Linked DNA regions of Homo sapiens: regions 1 and 2 are each linked to region 3. Evidence: fine-mapped expression QTL. A gene starts in region 3. Each other region holds a variant in brackets. All regions are shown on one strand. Distances are from middle to middle. Region 1 holds the start of ZFPM1-AS1 (ZFPM1 antisense RNA 1). Region 2 has its middle 6.0 kb from the start of ZC3H18-DT. Region 3 holds the start of ZFPM1 (zinc finger protein, FOG family member 1).

Region 1 (2,750 bases), 77 kb before region 3:
GGGGGCAGAAGGAAGAAGTGGACACCGCCAGGTGAGGCTAGCATCCATGACATACTGGGGTGACCGTGTGGACCCGGGAGGCCGTGGAAGAGGAAACGTGTGTGTACAGATGTGCGTGCAGGTGCGTGGGAGTGCCAGGCTGCAAAGAAAACCCACGCACACAGTCCCTGGGCACTCAGGCACACGATGGCTGCTGACTGCAGTTCTAGGGATGTGGGCATGAGACCAGGAGTGCACAAGTTAGGAAGCCCCCATGCGCCCACACACCTGGGCGGCTCCATGTCAGTGACCACCTGGCTGGTCAGATTTGTCGAATTTACCACACTGACCCCAAATGGGCTGCTTATAACTGTTGAGAGTTTTGGGGGCTTGCACTCTGCTTACGGTGGTTTTGCCAGCAGGGGAGGACTTCTCTAGCGTGTTCTCGGTTTGTCTTTATAGCAGTTTAAGGAATGTTCTCTGCCCCAGAGCCCTGCCCCATCTGCCCATGGCCCCTTGGCTGAAGACAGGGAAGGGAAGGACCTGTTCAGCTTGGCCTTGGCCTCCGTGTGGAACCCAGGGGCCCTGGGATTCCTTATCTGGCTTTCAAGCCCGTTCCACTTAGAGACTGATGTGATATCTGGTTTCTGCCTCTGCAGGTTAGTGCTGGTTTCTCACCCGGCTTCTCCGATGTTGATCCTGAGTCTGCAGTTATCACGCAGGGGTGGCCCCTACCCCCGCGCCCTCCCCTCTGCGGCCTGCTCGCCACCTCTGCCTCTTGGGAGGAATTTCAGTGCCTGGGTGAGGTGGCTCTTCCTCCTCCACCTCGCTGTTCTAACGACTTTTCTGGCTCACATCTCCCTCCTGTGCTGTTGATTTCTGTTTCTCAAGTTCCTTTTACTTGGGGGCTGCAGGCAGCTCTGTCCTCTCTCAGCTGAGGCCTTGAGCTGGGTCCCAGACCTGGGAGGCCACTGGGTGGGTTTGTTTCTGCGTCTCCAAGGTCATTGTGGGGGACTCTTGCTGCAGGGGTGTGGGGAGAGGGGCCGTGGCCATGCAGTTTAGAAAGGCTGCCCGCCTGCTGGTGACCACAGGCCAAATCTGGTGGCCTGCGGAGGGGCCTCCAGGCAGGTGCCTCTGCATCCCGCTTCACAGGCGAGATGGGCCCAGAGTGCCGGAGGCTCAAGAATGAAACTGGATCTGACCCTGGAATTGGTTCCTGCGGCTCTTCCAGAGCAGCAGACAAGCGTCGGCCGTGCCCTGGCAGCCGCAGAAGTGCTAGGGCAGGACTCAGG[T/A]ATGTCAACAAGATGTGTGGCTCACGGTGGTGTCCTTCCGAAGCAGCGTTCCCAGGACACTGCTGCCTGGGGATGAGGCATGTCAGACCCGCGAGGGGGAAACCGAGGCAGAGGCTGAGCCTGGGGCACCCGCAGCTGCCCCTCAGGGACTGGGAGGTGGTCTCCGCAGGCTGTGTGGGCAAGGACCCTGCTGGAGGACGGGACCCTCACCAGCCTGCTGTCCCCACTGTCTTACTGGCGTTATCAGCGGGGTGTTCCCCTGGAGTTGGGTCTCCCGGGCACCCCGAGACACTACGGGGGCACCCCCTCTCCATCCTGGTGGAGGGGTGCAATGGCCTCCCATCCCCTCCGTGCCTTCTTCAGGGAAGAGGAGAAGGCAGATGGGGACCCCCTTTGCTCCCGGCTCCTTTCAGTCACCTGCGGCCCGTGTTCTCTTCTGACCTCCTGGCTCCCTGGGGCAGTGGCTTGCCCAGCCCCTGCCCCCAACCTGGGCTTAGGTGTGGACCTGGCCGCTCGGCCCGTTCTCTCCAGTGTCACCAGCTATTCCCACCAGCACATAACATGGGCTATTATGTCCTGGCTACCAGGCACACAAGCCCATCCCCCTCTGGCCAGCTGGCCCCTGTGCAGGCCTCCTCTCTGACCCTCCCTGGAGCGGCCTCGGTCAGGGTCATGGCGACCTCTGCACTGTCAGGACCAGTAGTCATTTCTCTGCTGTTGGTCTCGCCACAGCCTGGATGTGCCAGACCACCTGCCGCCCTCCAGGACCCCCTCTAACCTATCTCAGCTCACTCTCCGTACCTTGGGAGATGTCCCCTGTCCCCTGACTCCAGGGTCCACAGGCCCCAGGGCTCTCTGAGCCCCATCCTTGTCCCTCAGTGGACTCTGTGGCTTCTCTTTTGCATGTAGCAGGTGTCTTGATGTCAGGACACTCAAAGAGTGGGGGTCTGCTCCCCTGACTCTCATACGGGCTGACATCCCCCCAGTGGCTGCACACTTGGCCCTGCAGGTCTCTTTGCCCCTAACCACTGGCTGCCTCCACCTACTTCAAGCCGTCTTCACATCCGACTTGCTCACAAAGGTCGCTTTTCTTCCAGTTTTGTGACTCTGTGGTCACCAAAGCTAAACCTGAGTCTTACCGTCCCCCTCCAAACGCCATCCGGTGCCGTCCCTGTTCCCCTGGGAAGCCCCAGCCGCTGGCCGGAGCCAGACTTGCTGCGTGTTCCCTGCGTGACTCGTGCCTGTCCACGATGGCCACGCGCTGTCCTTGGCCACAGAGGTGCACGGGGCGCACCATCACCCTCGGCTCATTTTTCAAAGTTTTGGCAGATATGGGATCTTCTGTGTTGCCCAGTCTGGCCTTGAACTCCTGGGCTCAAACGGTCCTCCTGCCTCGGCCTCCCACGGTGCTGGGATCACAGGTATGGCTCCTGTACCCGGCCGGGGGTGAGTGACTCATGATTCCCGCAGCCACCCTCA
Region 2 (2,750 bases), 100 kb before region 3:
TTTCTTCCATTCTTCCACATACAGTCACGTTCACAGGGTTAGGGTTAGGGACATGGATGTCTTTTTTTTTTTTGAGACGGAGTCTTGCCTGTGACCCAGGCTGGAGTGCAGTGGTGTGATCTCGGCTCACTGCAAGCTCCGCCTCCCGGGTTCACGCCATTCTCCTACCTCAGCCTCCCAAGTAGCTGGGACTACAGGCGCCTGCCACCACGCCCAGCTAATTTTTTGTATTTTTAGTGGAGACAGGGTTTCACTGTGTTAGCCAGGATGGTTTCGATCTCCTGACCTTGTGATCTGCCCGCCTCGGCCTCCCAAAGTGCTGGGATTACAGGCTTGAGCCACCACGCCCGGCCAGGGCACCCAGCCATTTTCAGTGGCCACATCACGTGTGAGTGAGGGGACCAGTTTCTGAGCGGGGACCCTGGTTTCTGAGCCCCCGTGGTGTGCTCAGTCCTTGTGAGGTTATGGTGAGGTAAGAATAGTGGCCCCCAGCGTGGAGCCTGTTTCCATTTCTCTTTTTCTCCTTCTAAGGCAGTACAGGCGGCCCAGCTGTGCCCTCCCGAGCAGGTGAGGCTGGCTGAACCCTCTGGGTTTTCCATCCTTGCCTGTAAGTAGAGCTGAAAACAGCACTTTCGCCCAGGTGCTAGGAAACGAGATGCTGTGTGTAAAGTGACTGGTGGCTGCCTGGCCTGGTGGTAAAGGTCCCGGAAATGGGTGACTGTGTGAGTCCAGGCTCACACTGCTCTAAAGAACTACTGGAGACTGGGTCATTTATGAAGAAAGAGGTTTAATTGGCTCACAGTTCCACAGGCTGTGTAGGAAGCATGGCTGGGAGTCCTCAGGAAACTCACAATCATGGTGGAAGGTGAAGGGGAAGCAGGCACGTCCTCACATGGCGGCAGGAGAGAGAGAGAGAAAGTGGGGGGCGGGGGAAGTGCCGCATAGTTTAAAACCATCAGATCTCGTGAGAACTCACTATCTGAGAATAGTGAGGGGGAAATCCACCCCCGTGATCCAGTCACCTCCCACCAGGCCCCTCCCCTAACCTTGGGAATGACAATTCGACATGAGATCTGGATGGGGACACAGAGCCAAACCACATCAGTGGCTTTAGGGAGATCTGAGTAGCAATGAAGGCATGGCCCGCTTGGGAGAAAGTGTCTGCAGGAAGCGCCTTGTGAATTCTGCGGTGCTCACCATGGGCTGGGCGGGTTTTCAGTGGGGGCAGCAGGGCCTTGGAGATGGGGCCACACTCTGGGGAACCCTTTGGGTCGGGGAGTGAGCCCCGCTCTGTCTAGACATAGGCAGTCCCAGCACAGCAGAGGGCGGTCCTTAGGTCCGGAAGGGGGCACAGTCAGGCGCGAATTCTGGGCCCTGAGCTGGGGCCATCATCTCCTCCCGAGAGAGAGCACAGGTGCCATTGCAGGTGCTGCTAGGGTGCTGCGTGCCCTCCGAGCTTGGCGACGCTCCACTGAGCTGTGTGAGTCTCCGTCCTGGGCTCCGTGGAGACCAGGATGAT[A/G]ATAAGATGAGGACCAGTGGCTTCCAGGAGCCCCAGTCTTAGAGGTGGAGACAAAGAGCTGTGGAGGGGCTGGGGGTGGAGAGGAGCCAGGGGGTGGGCAGAGGGGGTGGGGATGGGGCGGGAGGCATGGAAGGGGCAGGGGAGAGACGAAGGGCCACTGGAGCCACATTAAGACAGAGGGGAAGTGTTAAGACTTGGAGCTGAAAATGCTGGGAATTAAGCGGAAATTCTGCTAAAAGTTTATGGTAACACACTGGGATGGGGGCCGGGTGCAATGGCTCATGCCTGTAATCCCAGCACTTTGGGAGGCTGAGGCAGGCAGATCACTTGAGGTCAAGAGTTCAAGACCAGCCTGGCCAACATGGCGAAACCCTGTCTCTACTTAAAACAAAAAATTAGCTGAGTGTGGTGGTATGCGCCTGTAATCCCAGCTACTTGGGAGACTGAGGCAGGAGGATCGCTTGAACCCTGGAGGCGGAGGTTGGAGTGAGCCGAGATCGCCTCACTGCACTGCAGCCTGGGTGACAAGAGTGAAACTCTATCAAAAAAAAAAAAAAAAGAAAGCCAAAAATGCTGAGAATTAAGGCAAAATTCTGCTAAAAGGTTATGATAACACCTGGGATGGGAAAGGTCAGGCGTGCAGGATGAGGCCCGAGGGAGAGAGATGCCCCTTGCTTGGCGCCTTGCAAGGCTGGAGGAATGGGGCCGTGGGGAAGGGCGGTGGCCCCTGGCTCAGACAAGGGTTCCCTGGTGGAGGGTTGGCAGCTGTGGGAGGGAGCGGGGAGGCTGGGAGCTGCAGGGCCTCCCTCAAAGCCAACCAGGCCTTTGGCGCCAGCATGGAGGGGCTTGGACCAGCCCTGGAAGGGGAGTCCTTTGTCCCTGTCTCCCTGCCTCCCAGCTGCCCACTGCCCATCCCTGCTCAAGAGAGGAGGCGGGAAGGCTGTGTCAGGGAGGCCCAGCTGGGCTGGGGGTGGGGCCGAGGTTGCTGCTGCGGGTCTTCAGATGAGGACTCGAATGCTCCCAGGGGCCTGGCTGAGGCGGGACCAGCGGAAGGAGTAGGGAGGAGGGCTGGGACAGAGACTGGGTCCCTGAGATACAAGGCAAGGGCAGGGGCCTGGTGTGAACTCGCCCATAACCTCCAGGTTCGAGTCTCTCCTCCTGAGTGCTCCAGACCTGACCCTTGCTCTTCCCTTGGGACCCCACTGGCAAAAGGGACTTTGCAGATATGACT
Region 3 (2,750 bases):
GGCTGCGTCCTGGGAGGCCCTTCTCTGACTCAGAGCAGCCCATTGGGATGCCAGGGGGTGCCCGCGGGCATCCGAGGGCACCATTTGTTGCCCATGCCGCCTTGGCTGGGACACTTGCAGGGTCCAGGAGGTGTCACCAGGCTGGCGGGGCCTGGGTTCAGGACTTCAGCGCTAGGGCACGGGGTGGGGGTGTCTGGGGGGCTGGAGCCAAGTGCCTAGGCTGCGGCAGCTGCGCGCTACCCCCTCCCCTGTCCTGCGGCTCTGCGACGGCACCGGTGGGGGTGGGCGCGGGCCGGTGCCTGCCACTTGGCCAGGCATCTCCGCGGCCCCGGGTGTCCCCTCTGCCTCCCAGGTCTCTCTCTTCGCTTCTAGATACAAAGCCTGGGAGAGTCAACCGCGCGAGATAAGATCACAATTTCAGCCCGTCCCGACAGAACGATCTTATCAGGACGGGACTTGCAGAATGTAATATTTTAAACTTTATCTGAGCCCAGATCGGGGCCGCCCTATCGCCGCACCATCTCGCAGATGCGGGGGAGGGGCAGGCCGCGAGGGGCCGAGCTGCCCGGGCCGCGCCCCCAAACACCCTCCTCCCGGCCTCCGGGCGGCCCCCTCCTGGGCTGAACCCCCCGGTGCCCAAGCCGAGACGCGGGGGCCCAGGCCGCCGGCGGAGATTAGATTACGGCGCGCTTGGCACAGCGCGGGGGGCGCGGCGCGGGGTGAAGGTCGCCGGCGCCCAGGGCAGAGCGGGGACGGGCGGGGGCGGCGCTGGCGGCTGGGCTCCGGCGGGGGTCGGGCGCGCGGAGGGGACCGCGGGCAAAGTTTGACTCACGCTTGATCTGCCGGGGGTTGCTCTGTTTCCGCCTGGACATGTCTCCGGCGCCGCGCGCCCTCCCGGCGGCCGCCTCTAGCCCCGGGCGGGCGGCGGCGGGCGGCGGGGGCGCGGCGGGGCCGCGGGGCCGCTCATGCCCCCGGCCCCCGGTCTCCGCGGCCGCCCCGGCCCGCGCCCCCAGCCCGCGCGCCCAGCCCCGGAGCCGCTGGAGCTGCCGCGGAGGCCCGAGAGGCCACGGTCCTGCGTTGCGGGCGCGCGGACTGCCCGACGGGCGGGTGCCGGCTCCTCCGCTCCCGCGCACTCGCCGCCGCCGCCGCGGCCGCTCGGCTTTTCTCAATGGAACCCGCGGGCGGCGAGCGGCGGAGCAGGCGGCCACTGCGAGGGCGCTCCTGGCGGGCTGGAGGCACGGGGCGGGGCCGGGCCTGAGCGTCGTCGGCCGCCGCACCTCCCGCCCCGCCCCCGGCGCTCCGGCCCCGCCCCGTGCCTCCTGCCGGGCCCTGCACCTCTCCGGCTCCGCCCCCAGCGCCGCGGCCACGCCCCCGCCAGCCCGGCTCTTCGTTGCTCTGGCTCCGCCCCCAGAGCCGCGACCGCGCCCCCGCCCGCCTCGCTCTTTACGGCGCTGGCTCCGACCCCAGCGCTGCGGCCCCGCCCCTGTCCGTCTGGGCCTTCAAGGCACTGTCCCCGCCCCGCTCGATGCCCCGCCCCTTCCTGGTTCGGCCCCGCCCGCGCCCCGGGGAGACCTCTAGCCTCCCCCACTCCTCTTTGGCCCGGAGGTCATGTCCCCAGGCCGCGCTGGGAGTCTGAGACCTATTCGGTTCTGTTCTGCTGCCCCGCGGCACCGCATCCTGCGCCCCGCCTCTCGGCGCCAGCTCCGCCTCCAAACCTGACCCGACCTGGTTGGGTCCTGAGACGCCGAGGCTCCGCCCCCGCACTGTAACTCCGCCCCCAGCCCTTGGTCCCTCCCTAGACCCCTGGGCTCTGCCGCACGCTCCACGTGCGCGGTGGGGGCAGTGACAACCGGCTCAGGAAGCCCGAGGCCTTGACGCCCACGTTTCTCTTGGGCCAGACTTGGGGTGTGGAGCGGATTCGGGCCAGGGAGGGGGCTTCCGTCCCAGACTGCGGTGGGGTCCGCCAACTGAGAGCAGGATCTCGGGTCTTCCCCTGTGAGCTCAGACCAGGCTGGAAATCGAGGAGGGGGCGCGGGAGCCGGCAGCCCTGGGCGTTGCCACTTGGGGCCTCTTTCCTCACCGAGCCTCTCCAGGGCGCCCCGCAGGAGACCCACGAAGGAGTTGCCCACAGCGCCCGGGCCACAGCCCCCTCTCGGAGCAGTCAGAGGTCAGCGAGGTTTGTGGGCGCGGTGCTGTCAGCTCAGGCCTGGAAATGGAGAACTGTTGCCCTCTGGGGTGTGTTCAAGAGCCCCACTTCACGGAGGCTCGGGGACTTGCTCAAGGTCACGCATTGGGGGGCTGTCCCCCACTCCCAGCTGAGTTGTATCATCTCCTTTTAATGTTCTCGGTCTACACTTGCTACCTGCTCCCCCATCCCCCGTACTCATAAGAAACGGGCGTCAGTGGGCCCAGGGGCAGACAGGAAGGACCCCTCCCACCTGATGATGAGATCATCGCACAGCAGGACTGTCACACCACCCGCCAGCCTGCTGGGAGCTCCTAAGACCCCATCTCGTGCCAACTTCTGTGACCTATTCCCTGGCTCCAAGGAAGGGGAGAAGTGGGGGCTTACCCTCAGAGCCTGGTACAGGAGAGTGGCGGGTGGGTAGGAGAGGCAGGGGTACAACACTGGATATGCGCCGTCCCTCCCCACTGCCATGGACAGACAGGAACACTGAGACCAGGAGGCCAAGAGAGCTGCCCAGGGGCATACGGGTCCTCCAGCCCTTCCTGCTCTCTGCCAGGGTCCA

What was found. PIP is the estimated chance that this variant, and not a neighbour inherited with it, causes the effect.
Region 1: its variant is the best candidate, but not a certain one, in a credible set for the expression of ZFPM1 in thyroid (GTEx, PIP 0.76).
Region 2: its variant is the best candidate, but not a certain one, in a credible set for the expression of ZFPM1 in whole blood (Lepik 2017, PIP 0.64).

What each region holds. Positions count from the first base shown.
Region 1 is chr16:88,528,962-88,531,711 of GRCh38, reverse strand. The region is part of intron 6 of ZFPM1 (zinc finger protein, FOG family member 1); the gene reads right to left. ZFPM1-AS1 (ZFPM1 antisense RNA 1) reads left to right here and starts at 659. Exons shown (of 4, transcript NR_148997.1): 1 at 659-780; 2 at 1,104-1,270. The variant T/A (reference allele first, on the strand shown) is at 1,272.
Region 2 is chr16:88,554,648-88,557,397 of GRCh38, reverse strand. No RefSeq gene overlaps it. Among named protein-coding and RNA genes, the nearest start is that of ZC3H18-DT, 6.0 kb to the left of the region's middle. The variant A/G (reference allele first, on the strand shown) is at 1,520.
Region 3 is chr16:88,451,761-88,454,510 of GRCh38, reverse strand. ZFPM1 (zinc finger protein, FOG family member 1) reads right to left here and starts at 1,231. Exons shown (of 10, transcript NM_153813.3): 1 at 833-1,231. The coding sequence starts at 872. RefSeq lists silencers at 227-296, 517-646, 1,107-1,196, 1,207-1,506.